Homo sapiens: one gene and its partner. The protein of the gene in region 2 interacts with the protein of the main gene of each other region in a pairwise test. Each region holds a gene or a part of one and is shown on either strand. Other genes may lie near its edges.

What was found. The genes of interacting proteins can lie anywhere in the genome.
Region 1: the proteins of CARD10 (region 2) and ZNF366 interact in binary tests that used the Homo sapiens proteins (3 or more experiments, as listed by UniProt).

The regions. Positions count from the first base shown.
Region 1 is NC_000005.10:72,454,947-72,462,711, reverse strand, and holds part of ZNF366 (zinc finger protein 366), read left to right. Parts: intron 1-1,201; 5' UTR 1,202-1,215; coding exon 1,216-2,547; intron 2,548-6,116; coding exon 6,117-6,308; intron 6,309-7,765. UniProt on the Homo sapiens protein: Has transcriptional repression activity. Acts as a corepressor of ESR1; the function seems to involve CTBP1 and histone deacetylases.
Region 2 is NC_000022.11:37,502,167-37,509,931, forward strand, and holds part of CARD10 (caspase recruitment domain-containing protein 10), read right to left. Parts: intron 6,517-7,765; coding exon 6,361-6,516; intron 5,789-6,360; coding exon 5,663-5,788; intron 4,218-5,662; coding exon 4,026-4,217; intron 2,604-4,025; coding exon 2,469-2,603; intron 2,136-2,468; coding exon 2,020-2,135; intron 1,048-2,019; coding exon 1,019-1,047; intron 560-1,018; coding exon 436-559; intron 1-435. UniProt on the Homo sapiens protein: Scaffold protein that plays an important role in mediating the activation of NF-kappa-B via BCL10 or EGFR.

The DNA of each region.
Region 1 (7,765 bases), on a different chromosome or scaffold from region 2:
GGGCGTGGTGGCGCACACCTGTAATCTCAGCTACTCAGGAGGCTGAGGCACAAGGGTCACTTGAACCCAGGAGGCGGATATTGCAGTAAGCTAAGATTGTGCCACTGGACTGCACTTCAGCCTGGGCAACAGAGCCAGACTCCATCTCCAAAAAAAAAAAAAAAGAAAGAAAGAAAGAAAGAAAGAAAGAAAGAAAGAAAGAAAACTGGCAAGGAGACGTGAAAAACACTGCCCCTTGTTCAGACTCTAGTCCCACCACCAGCTCTTTCAGACATGCCTATGTCTCAGGACACAGTAACTGGCTGTGTCAGCAGGGGACATGTCAGGCACCACAGGAGTCACCAAGCCTGCCCCTTACTTTGACACCTGTCTGAAAGGAGAGACCCATGTGCGGCTTTATTTCACATAATAAAGGAATATTTCATTCCAGCTTGCTTCAGGTTTAAGAGTGGAATGTGTACATTGCCAGGATGACTTTATAACATTGAGCTACTCAATATGCTTTTTAAAATCATGTTTATGTCATTCACTCCCTATGCCTTAGTAGCACACCTTACTCAGAGTGGATACTCAGAAACGATTAGATCTGAGTTAAGCATTAACATCCCTTCTCCTATGAGGCTTTGAATATCCTCATTTTCCAGCAGCAAAGGCCCAAGCAAGGGAGTAGCAGTGAAAATTGGTTTCCTTACACAAAGAAAAGACCCTAAAAGTCACTTTCCAATCACCATTAGTAGATGTAATTACAACTCAGATTGAAAAGCTGCAGCAGAATGGGTCTAGTGCTCACTCCTTCAGTGAGTACCTATGTAACTTGAGAATGTCATTTCATTTATCTGGACTTTGGTACCCTGATCTTAAATGGGGACAATGGCCAGATGAGTTCTCAGGTTTCTTCCCAAACTAGTCCACTTCCCTTGCTACCATCACCCCTTGTGGTTTTGTGGCTGGATTTACACTGGAGCCCAATTTGATTCAGCCCTAGGGTCACCCCAAGAGGCCAGTGCTATCCATATTGATAACTGGGTTTGCAAGGAGAAAGAAAAGCGATATTTTGAACAGCCCTAGGATAAATGAGGGTCCATATTAAGCAAGTACTACTCTTCATAAATTAGTACTGATAAATAGCCATAATCCTTAAGGAAAAAGAGAATTTTAAACAAAACCAAACCAAAACACACAAGTTTCTTTCTCTTTAAAGGAAAATTGCCAAGGATGCAGAAGGAAATGAAGATGATCAAAGACGAGGATGTGCATTTCGACTTGGCTGTGAAGAAGACCCCCTCCTTTCCCCACTGCCTGCAGCCAGTGGCTTCTCGGGGAAAGGCTCCCCAAAGACACCCCTTCCCGGAAGCTCTCCGAGGGCCATTTTCCCAGTTTCGGTATGAACCTCCCCCAGGAGACCTAGATGGGTTCCCCGGGGTCTTCGAAGGAGCAGGGTCTAGGAAACGGAAGAGCATGCCCACAAAGATGCCCTATAACCACCCTGCAGAAGAAGTCACCCTCGCCCTCCACTCAGAGGAGAACAAAAACCACGGCCTTCCCAACCTCCCTTTGCTGTTCCCGCAGCCCCCGCGCCCCAAGTATGACTCTCAGATGATCGACCTGTGCAACGTGGGCTTCCAATTCTACCGCAGCCTGGAACACTTTGGGGGCAAGCCCGTCAAGCAGGAACCCATTAAGCCCAGCGCCGTGTGGCCCCAGCCAACGCCCACTCCATTCCTGCCCACGCCCTACCCCTACTACCCCAAAGTCCACCCGGGCCTCATGTTCCCCTTCTTCGTGCCCTCGTCCTCGCCCTTCCCCTTCAGCCGGCACACCTTCCTGCCCAAGCAGCCCCCGGAACCTCTGCTGCCCCGGAAAGCCGAGCCCCAGGAGAGCGAGGAGACCAAGCAGAAGGTGGAGAGGGTGGACGTGAACGTGCAGATCGATGACAGCTACTACGTGGACGTGGGCGGCTCGCAGAAGCGCTGGCAGTGCCCCACCTGCGAGAAGTCCTACACCTCCAAGTACAACCTGGTCACCCACATCCTGGGCCACAGTGGGATCAAGCCGCACGCGTGCACGCACTGCGGGAAGCTCTTCAAGCAGCTCAGCCACCTGCATACCCACATGCTGACCCACCAGGGCACGCGGCCCCACAAGTGCCAGGTGTGCCACAAGGCCTTCACCCAGACCAGCCACCTGAAGCGCCACATGATGCAGCACAGCGAGGTGAAGCCGCACAACTGCCGCGTGTGCGGCCGCGGCTTTGCCTACCCCAGCGAGCTCAAGGCCCACGAAGCCAAGCACGCCAGTGGGCGCGAGAACATCTGTGTGGAGTGCGGCCTCGACTTCCCCACCTTGGCCCAGCTGAAGAGACACCTCACCACGCACCGGGGCCCCATCCAGTACAACTGCTCCGAGTGCGACAAGACCTTCCAGTACCCGAGCCAGCTGCAGAACCACATGATGAAGCACAAGGACATCCGGCCCTACATCTGCTCAGAGTGTGGCATGGAGTTTGTGCAGCCGCACCACCTCAAGCAGCACTCCCTCACCCACAAGGTACTGCGGGGCCTCTGGTGGGGCGGACGGGGCCTTGGGAAGAGGAGCGGGGCCCTGAGCAGAGCACTGGGGAGCAGGACGCCTGTGCCGCTCTGCACCTTACCCCGAGGAGGTGGGCAACCCCGGACAAGCGGTCCCTTGGCCGAGCCCTGAGGTCCTTCCTCACGTTTAAATAAGAGAGAACGATTCTCGACCAAGCCCTTTGCCCCAGCAGCCTTCTAGACTCTAAGGTAGGCCTAGAAATAAATAATGCAGACATTTGCAGAGGAGATGAGGAAGGATGCTCCCTAGCCTCCAAGAATCTTGCAGATTCGGTTTCTAGAAACTTCATCCAAGGCACTAGCATGAGTAAGTCATCAGACCCTAGATCAGCTCTGTGCCTGGGATGTGCCAGGGAGCACCTTCTGGATAATTCTCTTCGTCTTGTACTGTTGAAGCAGTGGAAAACTTTTTGGATTGTTTTCTCCCTCAACTGTGAGACCTGCTTCATATGCAAGTTCTCCAAGGGAAGCAGAGCTTGGCTGAGGCCGGCAGGGCCTATACCTCCCTGCGTTGGACCCGTGCCTAGCTGGGTGAAGTGCCCTGTGGTTTACATTGTAGGAGGCATGAGAAAGCATCCTTCTCTGTTTGGTTTTGTTTGATCTTCTCTGTGCTCAGGTCTTCAAGGGGAAATACAGGCCCAAGAGTCTGAGTTCAGCCCAGTTTGCAACCATAGCCCTGGAGTCATTCAGGCTGAACTAAAACAAGGCCCTAGTGGTGTTCCTGAAATCTTACCCCAGCTAAAGTATGGAACCTGCTCTGAGCCTCCGAGAGGGAGTTTTGCCCCCACTGACTCCCACTCTCACACCCTTAACCTCAAGTGGTTTTCTTGGCAGGAAAGACTTCTAGCAAGCCAGAGTTTCTAAAGCATTCTTTAATTCTGAAAGGTCAGGAGAGGACTTTGCCCAGCCAAGATAATGTTTCTGCTGTGCTATAATACGTTTCACTTCTTAGGTTAGGACAAAACACAGGGTATTTTCTGGCTCTGCCACAGAGATGAAATGTGTGGCTGCCTTGTGGGCTCTGCACAAACAGCTCCTGCCCTACAAAAGGTACCTGTAGATACTATCCAGAGGGGAGTCGCCTGCCAAGTGCAGGAACCATCAACAAAGGACCCAGACTGGGATTCAGCCGTAAAGGGGACCATTCGCTAACTTCAGGGGCTCCTTTATATGTGGGAAAGGAATCAAAAGTGCATTTTAGAGCATATGAAGATCCTGTAAGATGGTAGAAAATGAAGTCAAAATGGGAGAAACAGCCTGGTGTCTGAAATAAGTTTCATTTGAATTTTAATTAAAACAAAATACACTTTAATGAGAGGTGTCAGCAAACAGTGAGAGGTAGTATTTGTTGAACACTTGCTATATGACAGGTGTTTCACTCTTCATTTAATCCTCATTTACTTCTCAACAACTCTAAGAGCTACTCCCGATCTGCAGTTGAAGACACTGAGGCATGGGAGGTCACTCAGGAATCTCTGACACAGGCACCTGTGCCTTGGCCACTCTACAGTGAACACTTCCTCTTTTCCACCTGCTTCCCTGTTCGCACCCCTGACCACCTGACAGGCTCCGACTCTGTGATTCCACTGATCCTATCAGAGAGACAACAGCTTCCTTTGTTGCCTTAAAGTTGTGTCCAGGCTCCTGCTCATTTGCATTCTAGGCCAGCCCACAGGTGAATCTTACTTTGGACACAGAATTCTCTTTAAAGAATTCTGAAAACAGTGATAAGCAGAAACGTCTCCTTGGTTTCAGGACAAATGGATCAGATCCAAGCCCAGAGAAAATCTTGAGAGAAGAAAGATGCTGGCCGGGCGCGGTGGCTCACGCCTGTAATCCCAGCACTTTGGGAGGCCGAGACGGGCGGATCACAAGGTCAGGAGATCGAGACCATCCTGGCTAACACGGTGAAACCCCGTCTCTACTAAAAATACAAAAAATTAGCCGGGCATGGTGGCGGGTACCTGTAGTTCCAGCTACTCGGAAGGCTGAGGCAGGAGAATGGCGTGAACCCAGGAGGCGGAGCTTGCAGTGAGCCGAGACCACGCCACTGCACTCCAGCCTGGGCAACAGAGTGAGATTCCGTCTCAAAAAAAAAAAAAAAAAAAAAAGAAAGATGCTAAAATAAAATTTAAAATCCATTAAGAAAATGTTTTTCATTAATTTTATAATCTTAAACTCAGTGTTTGAATATGCACTACATTTTAAAGATTCATCTCCATAGGCAGAATCAAAATTTAATTTCTAAAGGAGGTTGATTTCTAGGTCTCCTTATTAACATAAATGCATACTCATGTACCATCATCTGGACTAGACAGTGCTTGAGTTAGAAAGAACCCCAGGGTTCTCATGACCCACCACTTCATCTTGTGATGAGAAGCCTTCACTAAAAAAGGCCACACGACTCATCTAAGGTTTTACAGCCAGTAAACAGCTGGGCAGAGACCTGAATCCACCATTTAGTACCATGGGCCCACCAGAACTGCAGAGTGGTTCTTTCTTACCATGCCTCAAAGTAAAGAAATGGAAACATAGACAGAGAGAGTCAGAGATGAGCTTGGAATCCCTCCTTCCCTCCTTCAGCCACTATGAATACCAGGCAATATGGATTTCATCAGGTACAGTTGTTAACTAAGTAACTTGTTCTAATCCTATGATAACCTTCAGTTTAGTGCCCTGGTTCTCTAAATTTTTCTTCCCAAAAGTCATTCAGGGTCAAGACCTCTTGCAAAGGCCTTTGTGGGGAAGCAATGGATAGTCAGGATTAGTGAATGCCCGGCTCAAGCTGTGAGTCCCTGGAAATGCTCTCAATTAAGGGCCTTGGTTCAAACACACCTTCATGCACAGCAAGGAAACAAGAAAGCCTCCTGTCCTGTTCCTTAATTCAGAAAGCTACCTCTTGCCAAATTTCTTTATAAGAAGGAGCTGGCTTAGGGAAGGCTCCATAACCATGTCATTGTGGAGGTCAGTGTGGCCTGTGGGAACCCAGGGGACCAACTTGAGAGGGTGATTATCAAGTTGTAATTTAAGTTGTAATTTACTGCAGTGTGGATATAAGTTGTTCTGGGATTTTCAAGTCCATTAATGAGAACCCAAGAGAACATTGGTTTCCATAAGGGAAATGATAATATCATTTTGGAAGATTTTTTTTTCATTATCATGAAAGCTGGATTATGGACTCATATTGCATATCAGCCCATAGTGCTCTTACTAAAAGCCTGTTAATCCTCAAGAACTATCACTGGAGACTTAACCCCAGCAGCAGCTGGAACAACAAAAGCAAGAGCTTTCTTTTCCTCTAATAGTCTGGCTAGTTTATGGTTTTCAGAAGGAAAAAAAAGGTTATATAATCAACACTTTTCAAGAAAATAGTAATTTAACAAGGCTGAAGCTACACCATTTGAAACTCAACATCTATCACCAAGCTCTTTGTGGATTTATGTGGCAGAGAGGAAAATGAAGCCTATGATCCTGATGAAAGCATGTTACCTGTCAATCACCACTTTTCTGAATCTTGCCTCCCTGCAGGGTGTGAAGGAGCATAAGTGTGGGATTTGTGGGCGGGAGTTCACCCTGCTGGCCAACATGAAGCGACACGTGCTGATCCACACCAACATCCGCGCCTACCAGTGTCACCTCTGCTACAAGAGCTTCGTGCAGAAGCAGACCCTCAAGGCACACATGATCGTCCACTCTGACGTGAAGCCTTTCAAATGCAAGGTGGGCAGTGGGACTAGAGAGGAACCAGAGGGTTGTGCAAATGCCTGATGGGAAAGGGTCCCCAGGGAGCCTTCTACTCTGTTTCATCAGTGGGGCTACGGGGGCTCAGAGTAGGTCCGTGGCCAACCCCAGGTCCCATCTGCCACTCTATCCCTCTCTGCACGCCCCACTTACATCATGCCAGGCTGGAGGTCCCTAAGGAGCCTGCCCTATTTGTCTCACTGTGGCATCCATGCCCAGGGGTAGAGCCAGGCACTAGGGAAAGGTCTGAGGGTGGAAGGCCCTTTTGGAGAAGGAGGCTGTTAAAGGATGCAAGTAATGTGGAGAGCCTTTGTTCTAGAGAGGAGAAGGCAAGTTTAGCCTTCTTCTCCTTACAAGGCAATGAGCAGGACATAGAAAAGAGTCAGAGAAGCTTCTAGCACAGCTTCCCCCCCACCCACCGCCACCTCCTCTCCTCTCCTTGCCTCTTGACACTTGGGCTGAGCCATATGTTTAGTTTGAGGGCAGGCCTCCTAGAGACGGTGAGAGGGATTCCAAAGCTAGCCCCTCAGAGGCCCTCAGAAATGCTTGCTGGGGCTGTGGAATAACTGCGAGCACAGTCACTTCAAGTGCCTTTCACCTATTGCTAAGTGCCATGTAGCACAGGGATGGAGCATCTTTGTTAAAATATCTGTTAGACTAATTTGGTTGGGTTTGTATTTCATCAGCCGAGAAAACGTGTGAGCTGGAGATTTGTAAAACCCAAGGCGCTGACGGGCATTACTCAGAAATGCTCCGGCTCCCCGAGGCTGTCCCCACCCCACAAGAGTGTTTCCTCTCTCTACTTCTAAAATGAGGAGAGAGCATTGGCCATGACTGGGTTTAATCCGAGTGATGTACTGGCCAAGTGTCATCCGGTCATGAAGAAGGCTGAGGGGGAAGAAGAGGGAAATTACCACATTCAGATATCGTTACAGCCCTTCTGTTTGAAATGGAGGTTTTTTCTCTCTGCTACTGGGTACCTAATCGGGTTCAAATGATACTCTGCTGATCTATATTCCTGAAGTGGGGTTCCCTGTTTCCAGGGACTGTTCCTGCTTTAATACCTCTGCAGTGTGGCCCCACTTGAAGGAATCCCCTGTGAAGCTGACTTCTTTCCTGTGTTGGCAACTCTTGGAAGGGGTGAGGGGTCAGACACCAGAGCTTCCCTAGACCTGTGTGGGCATTGTCCAGAGGTGGGAGAGGGAGGCTTCTCCCTCCAGCCCTTTTCCTGCCACCCACTTCTGTTTCCCCTCCTTTTCTTCATATTCCCAGTGGTTCGAAAGTCAATTTACATCCGTCTAAAGCAAGAATCAGCTTCATGCAGCACAGGCCACATATTTTTCAGGACTCAATGCAAAATGGAAATGCAAGGCTCCTTGTTCAAACATTACCAGGAGTTAAAGATGATGGAAGCAGAGCATTAAGCCAAACTCAGG
Region 2 (7,765 bases):
GCCCACCCACAGCATGAAACTTTGCTGGGTGGCTCAGTCCCAGGGACTCAGAGCCAAGGGACTGACAGGCAGGACATTGGGACGAGGACAGCTTGTAAGTGACAACTATTACTAAGCACCTGCTACATGCCTGGCAGAGCTGGGTGCTTTGCTTCTGCGAGCAGAGCCCTCAAAAGACCTCCATGCAAAAAGGGTCATCATCTCCCTTTAGCTACTGAGGAAATGGAGGCCCAGAGAAGTGAAGGGACCAGCCCAAGTCACAGGGACGATCAAGAGCGGCAGCAGGATTGGAATCCAAGGGCTGCCAGTGTCTACAGATCTTAATCTTCCAATAGTTGCATAAAACAGGGGCGAGGCAATTGCTCCTCCCACCTCACTCCTGTTCCCCTCTCAAGCAATCACCCCAGCTCCACCCACTGCAGGCAGCTACAGTACCTGTTGAGGAAGTCCAGGCCACAGCCCCGAGCCAGGAGGCCTTCCGGCTTTCCCAAAGGCCACACGCTGTCAGAGGATGAGGACGAAGAGAGGCCAGGGGACCAGGGCTTAAGTGTCACACTCCCTGGGGAAAAAGAATGAGGTTCAGGGATCTGGCACTGGGAAACAGGGATGGCCAGGGTCCATGACAGGGACTGACCCCCCTCCAGCCCAGAGAGGCCTTGGCAGGTTTGAGGCCCCAGGAGCACATCAGACCCACTGGGCTCAGAGATAGGTCAGGGCCCACCAGGCTGACCCCGCAGTTTCCCAGAAGAGGGTGAAAGGTGGCCCAGAACTGAAGAGCCTCGTACATCACAGCCGGGAACAGGAGTGAGGCCCAGGACTGGGCTCGGGGTGAGAGGCTGGAACCAAAGTCCCCAGGGTCCTCCCAAGCACAACCTTCCTGCCTGGCAGGGGCCACGGCGGGGCTTCAGGGAAGGGGATGCAGGCCAAAGGTAGCGCAGGTGGTGCAGGCTTCAGGTGGGCTGCAAAGCCACCTCCCCCGACCAGAGGAGCCCTCCCCACGGAACTCAAGGGCTGTTACCTGTGATGTCTGACATGCTGCTGAAGGATCTGGGCAGAGAGAGGGCAGGGAGGGGGCAGGAGGTGAGGCACAGTGGGCACTCTGCCCCGCTCCCTCCTCCTGCCCCCACACCAGATAAATGTCTCACAGCCCCCAAGCAAATGCAGGCTAGACTCAAGGCAGGGTCCCAGGTACAGGGCACCCATGCCACCTGGCTCCCCTAAACTCCCAGGGTAAGAAGTTAATGTCCTGGCCTCTGTCCAATGTTGTTCCACCTACAATGCCCTGGCATGCCCTTCAAAGCCAGCTCTTTCAATGCCACCTCCTCCTGGAAGCCACCCCTGATCTCTCACCCCTCACCTCACCCTCACTTGCCACCTTTGTGGTTTGTGACTCCCAGGTACGCCTCCTAAATTAAACCATGACCTCCTCATCAGACACCTCCTTGGGACAGATTTACGCAGATCAAGGCCATACTGACCACAGCCTCCCAGGGCCCAGCCTCTCACCAGTAAAGGAATAAATCAAGGGCTGCTTACAGGGGAAAAGCAGTGACAAGGATCGCGCCCCAGGAGGCAGGCTATCTCCCGCCCTTGGTCTTGCCACCAGAGGGTGCGCCTTGGTTTTTCTGGTCCCTATTTGCTGCTGATGCCCAAACCTGGGGCCTGGCTTTCTTGCCGGAGGTCCCTGATACCTTGAAACATTCTCCACGCCCCCTAGTCCTGAACCATCAAGCTTCTCCTTGGGTATAGGATCTTCAAGGCTTGACCCCCAGTGACCCTCCTGCCAGGATGCTTGGCTAGGACTGAGTTCGCTCTGCCCATCGGCCTTATCTTAAGCCTGACCTTGGTCGCCCCTGTGACTCACAGGACCTGGGTTTCCAGAGCTCCAGCCATCTGAGGGCAATAAAGGGAAGTGACTGCCTGGACCTGACTTTGGCATTGCAGATTCTGGGAGGTGGCTGTTCGGGAAACGGCAGCCCCACCTCCCTGGGTGTCTACTGCTATCCCCAGCCATCTCACCTCTTAGGGGGTGCGGGGTCTTCCTCACGCTGCCGGCGGAGGATGGAGCCGGCACTGGGGGGGAAGGGCAGGATGGAGAGCCGATTGATCTCCTTTTCACTGTCTGTGGCTTCCTCCTGCAATGCCATGACAGGGCCTGGGTCACCCCCACTGCCCAGCACCATCCCAGTCCTCAGCACACCTGGTTTGTGCCCATTCCACAAATGAGAAGTAGGGCCCAGAGCAGAAGAGCGGGCTCTGCAAGATTATAGTGTGCGGGTGGCTCCCCACGCCTCCTGGCACCTATGCCTGGCAAGGAAATGGTTCTGGGTGAGCTTCAGTAAAGTACTTGGCCTCCCTGCGCCTCAGTGTCCTCACCTGTGAAATGGATCCTTCAGAAAGCACTCTCCACATTAGTAATAATGCTATAGCAGTGTCCCCCCTTATTTGGGATGGGGCAGTTGTCTTACCGAGTTGTGAGGCTCAGGTCCCCCCATGACAGCTGCCTCCCCAGTTGCTTCTGGGCCTCCCAGAGGGGAGGGGAACTCGCTCAGGCTCCAAGTGCTGCTGAGGTTGGAGCACAGGGAATGGGAGGAGGCACAGGCCTGGAAGAGGGAGAGGAGAGGAAGGAGGTGAGCAGTGCTAGGCCCACGTCAACCACAGTCCTTTACTGAGCACCTGCCATGTGCCAGCACAGGGACAGATCCCTGTCCTCAGGGAGCTCACAGCCTAGAATGGGAGATAAACTGTAAACCAGCAGACATGTGAACAAAATAGCCCCAAGCTGAGACAATAGCAGAAGGAAGGTGCCCAGGGCATGGAAAACACACAAAGACCCCACCCAGCCTGGGAGTCCAAGTACTCTCCAAAGAAACTGTGGTTTGAACTGAGAACTCAAGGGTATAGAGGCGCTAAGTAGGTCAAGCTGGGATGGTCCAGGCAGATCAACAGCATGTGCAAAGGCCCTGAGGCAGGACTGTGATGCATTCCAGTTGAAAGACTGGAACCCACAGAACCAGGCGAGAGGACAAGAGGAACCCCACCCGCAGGGCCTCTTGGCCATGAAAAGGGACTCTGTCTTTACCAAACAGCAAAAAAGCCACTGGGGGTTAAAAAAAAAAAAAAGTCTTGGATTAATGCTGACTTTTCCTATATTCCTCCAGGCCCCAGTGCTTCAAACACCAGGCCTGCGGAGCTCACTGTCAGGCAACTCAAAATAAGAAAACGCAGGCTGGGCGTTCGCACCTCTAATCCCAGCACTTTGGGAGGCTGAGGCAGGAGGATCCCTTGAGGTCAGGAGTTTGAAACCAGCCTGGCCAACATGGTGAAACCCCCATCCCTACTGAAAATACAAAAAAAAACTTAGCTGGGTATGGTGGCAGGCACCTGTAGTCCCAGCTACTAGGGAGGCTAAGGCACGAGAATAACTTGAACCTGGGATCCAGCCTGGGTGATACAGCAAGATTCTGTCTCAAAAAAAAAAAAAAAAGGAAAAAGCAGAGCTCCCGGCAGCAGCCTGAGGACCACGATCCAATTTACAGTGGGTCTGGGACTCCAGCTCCAGTGCTAGCTGGCTGTGTGGCCTTGGGCAAGCCCCTCACCCTCTCTGGGCCCTGTGCGATGAGAGGATTAGACCAGCTGGTCTCTGAGGGATGCTTAGGCCCATGTTAGTCCTGACTAGCTGGTCTCTGAGGCCCAGGTTTTGCATTCTAACATGCACACAGGCACTCAGGCAGCCAGCCTTCCCCAGTTAAATGCAAAGACCAGCTCCAAACTATTCTTAGTGTCCCAGAAGCAACCCCAGAAACTCAGAGACCAACATGCCCCTCCGCCTGCTCACCAGCCCACACCCAGCCCAGCCTGGGTTCAAGTTCCCGCCCCTAACTGAGGACTCTTCCCACTTCCCCCAAGCTTCCTCCCCTGGCTGAGGTCTCCCACCAGGGCCGGCACGTTCCCAGCCCTGGCCAAGAGCTCCTGCCAGGACCCCAGCCTTCCTGCCAGGACCTCCACAATCTTGACCCGCTCACCTTGAGGCAGGTGCCACCCTGGGCCCGCTGCAGCTGAACCTCCAGCAGAGCCTTGGTGCCCTCCAGGCTGGTGAGCGTTGTCAGCAGCTCATCCCGCTCCGCCTCCAGGCCCCGCACCTGCTTGCGGTACTGGTCCTTCTCGATGAGGCTCTGTGAGTACTGCAACTGGATCCGGTCACGGCTCTGGATGGCCTAGGGTTGGGGGAGGGGAGGCAGCAGCTGAAGGAGCCACCTTGGCCCAGCTTTCCTGGCCTATGACTTGGAGAATGGGGACAGTAAGGAGAATGGCAGCTATCACTTACTGAGCACTGTGTGCCGGGCCCTGAGCTAAATTATCAGCTCATTTAAATATCTTCACACTAACTGGCTAAGTTAGATACTATTAATATCATTATTCTCATTCTGCAGACTGGGGAAACCAAGCCAGGAGCGACAGAGCTGGGATTCAAATCGGGCAGTCCATCTGCAGAATCCAGGCTCTCACCATTTCACCAAGAACTGAAAACTTTTCCACGAGACCTGCTGTGTGCCAGGGGCTTCACTCCCAGCATCCCAGTCAGTGGAGAAGCCAGGAGTCAAACCCAGCCCACTGCATCCACAGTGAAGACCAGGGGCTCCAGAGCTGGGCCCATGGTCCAGACCTGTCACCCATGCCTCAGAGAGAGCCGGGGGCAGCCCCATAAAATGCAGATTCCTGGGGCCCACCCCAGACCACCTGAATCAGAACGTCCAGAGAATGAAGCCCCAAATTTGCACTTTCAAGCTTGCCAGGGGATTCTGAGGGCATTTCTAATATGCAGACTTCGGCTGGGCATGGGAGCTCATGCCTTTGATCCCAGCACTTTGGGAGGCTGAGGCAGGTGGATCAGTTGAGCCCAGGAGTTCAAGACCAGCCTGGTCAATATAGTGAAACCCTGTCTCTACTAAAGATACAAAAATTAGCCAGGAATGGTGGCATGCCTGTAATACCAGCTACTTGGGAGGCTGAGGCAGGAGAATCACTTGAATCTGGGAGGCCTCAGTGAGCTGAGATTGCACCACTGCACTCCAACCTGGGCAACAGAGCTAGATTCAGTCTCAAAAAGTAATAACAACAATAATATACAGACTTCAACTCCTCTAGTGGGATTCACACCTGGTTAAGGACAAAAACCTCCTGCCCTTCCCCGCTGCAGATGGAACCTCACACAAGGAGGCTCGGGGGCCTGGTGGCACTGGCCGGAGGTCCTCAGCCCACCCCACAACCTTGGCAGGAGACAAGGGTCATAGTGCCCAGGGACTGAAAGCCAAAACTTTTGAGAATTTCTTCATCGGCTTCTATTTGTAAGCACTCCCTCTGTGCTGGCCTTGTCTTTGAGATGGACAGAACAAGGGATTCAAAAATGAAGACACCAGGACCAGCTTCTGTAACTGCCACAGGAGCTCAGATGAGGCCAGTGGGTCCAGGGTGTAAGGCTGGTATCTCAAGGGCTCCAGGTCTCCTGTCTGGTTCCCCCAGCCTTTGTGCCCCGTCCTAACCCAACAGGGAGCGGCTAACGTCTCTTTCTACCATTCTAGTCCCCTCCATTGCTCCTTGTCTCCTCCCATATGGGAAGCAGCAACTGGCCCAGGGCCTCGTACACGCAGGCTGGGCTCACCTGGTCTCGCTCCTTCTCAATCTCCTCCAGTTGGGCCAGGACAGTGGCCATGCGGTGCTTGTACAGGTCACAGTCCTTCTGCAGCGTGCGGTGCTTGAGCCGCAGGTCTTCCATCTCCTGCAGGTACTGAGGGTGGCACGGGGCGGGGTCAGACCACAGGGCTGGGGACCATGAGAAAGCTAACCAGCAGGTGCCCAGGAGGGCCAGTGAGAGACGCTCACCAACAGTCTGAGACCCAATAACAAGTCCCCTCCTGCCCAGTGGAGTGGTCTGAGCCACTGACTTTACCTCACAGGCCCTCAACTGCCTAATCTGTAAAACGAGAAGAATGATCATCATTTCACCCATCCGGCCACCCTTGGCCTCCCCACTCAAACTGCAACCGGCCCCTTCCCCAGCTCTGCATCTCCCACGGTGCTCATCGCCTTTGACTACATGAAATAGCTGACGTGGGACTGTGTATCTCACATACTGCCAGTCTCCCCTGCTGGAGTTCCCCCTCAAGGAAAAGGCACCTTTGTTTTGCTCACTGCGGCATCTCAAGCGCCTAGAAGGGTGCCTCCGTCAACATCTGAGAACAAATGAATGCAGTTCTCAGCGCGGCGCCTGCGTCAAGCAGATGCTCAGGGAAGGCGTGAGCACACAGGCCCTGCCTGACACCCTCCCGCACAAGGGGCAGGGCACGGGCAGGGCCCCACCTGGTCGCGCAGCTCCTCGGCCCACTGCAGCTCCCCCTGCACGGCATGCAGCTTCTGGCACAGCTCCTGCCTGCTGTCCTGCGCCTCCCGCCAGTCATGCTCTAGGATGTCCAGCAGGATGCGCTCGGAGCCCGGGGCCCCCGGCCGGCTCGCCTCCTGGGGATCACAGGGCAGGGCCACCTCAGGGTCTGGCTAGGGGCCCACCCTGGGTGTGGGAAGGAAGGGGACACGCAGCTCTCAGCCCTCCAAACCCACCTGACCAGCTCTGCCATGCTGGCCCGGGGCCTCGACCCTCTCTGGATCTCTGTCTCCCCATCGGCAGAGTGGGTGTGGCCCCACAAGCCCTACCCACCCTCCAGGGAGTATCTGGGGTACAAGTAAGCTAATAAGCTAAGTGGAGAAGGGTGTGACTGGACAAGTTCACCCAGGATTATTCCTAAACAAGCACCAGGCACACACTCGTGCTCTGGCCCTCACCCACCATCCAGGGCAGCAGACGGAGGCCATTCCCAAGACCTACTCCCACCCCCATGACTAGGGGTCTTCAAGGGGCTGAGCCTGGCCCATACAGGTAGACCCTGGGCCCAAGATCTTGCCCCCAGACCCACACCCCAGCCAAGTGCCCCAACCCCATGAAACACACTGGCTCTCATCCCCCACTTCCTGTGTGGAACAATGGCCAGGAGGCAGGCCCATGCAGCTGCTGACCTGCCACTGACCTGCCGCAGGACACTAAGCAAGCCCTAGGGCCCCCAGGCCACACCCTCTACAAATCAAATTAAAGCTGGGGCCCTTTCCCCAGAAAAATGCTCACACTCAAAATCAGGGGGGCAGTTTTAGGGAGTTTGAGGACCTTCTGGAGGCTGCTCACACACCCTAGACCAGACAACCAGGGACAGCCACGTGCTAAGGGCCCTCAGCTCAGAGCTTCAGGCAAGAGGCTACCGGGACTCCATCCAGATCTCAGATCCCTGGTTCTGAAATCCTCAGCTTCCCAGGCCTTGGGAGGATAAGCAAACAGCAAGAGGGCCTGTTTTCCGGGTCTGACCCCCACCCCCACTCCATGTCCACGAGCCCTGGCCCTAGTACCTGCTGCAGGCCCTCCTGACCTCCCCGCAGCCTGTGCCCATGAACGCTGGCCCTGGTACCTGCTGCAGGCCCTCCTGACCCCCCCTCAACCCCCATGGCCACGAGGCCCAGCCCTGGTACCTGCTGCAGGTCCTTCTGACCTCCCCCGACCCCCATGCCCATGGGCCCCAGCCCTGGTACCTGCTGCAGGCCCTCCTGACCTCCTGCCAGCCTGTGCCCACAAGCCCCAGCCCTGGTACCTACCGCAGGCCCTCCTGACCACCCCCCACCCCCGTGCCCATGGGCCCCAGCCCTGGTACCTGCTGCAGGCCCTCCT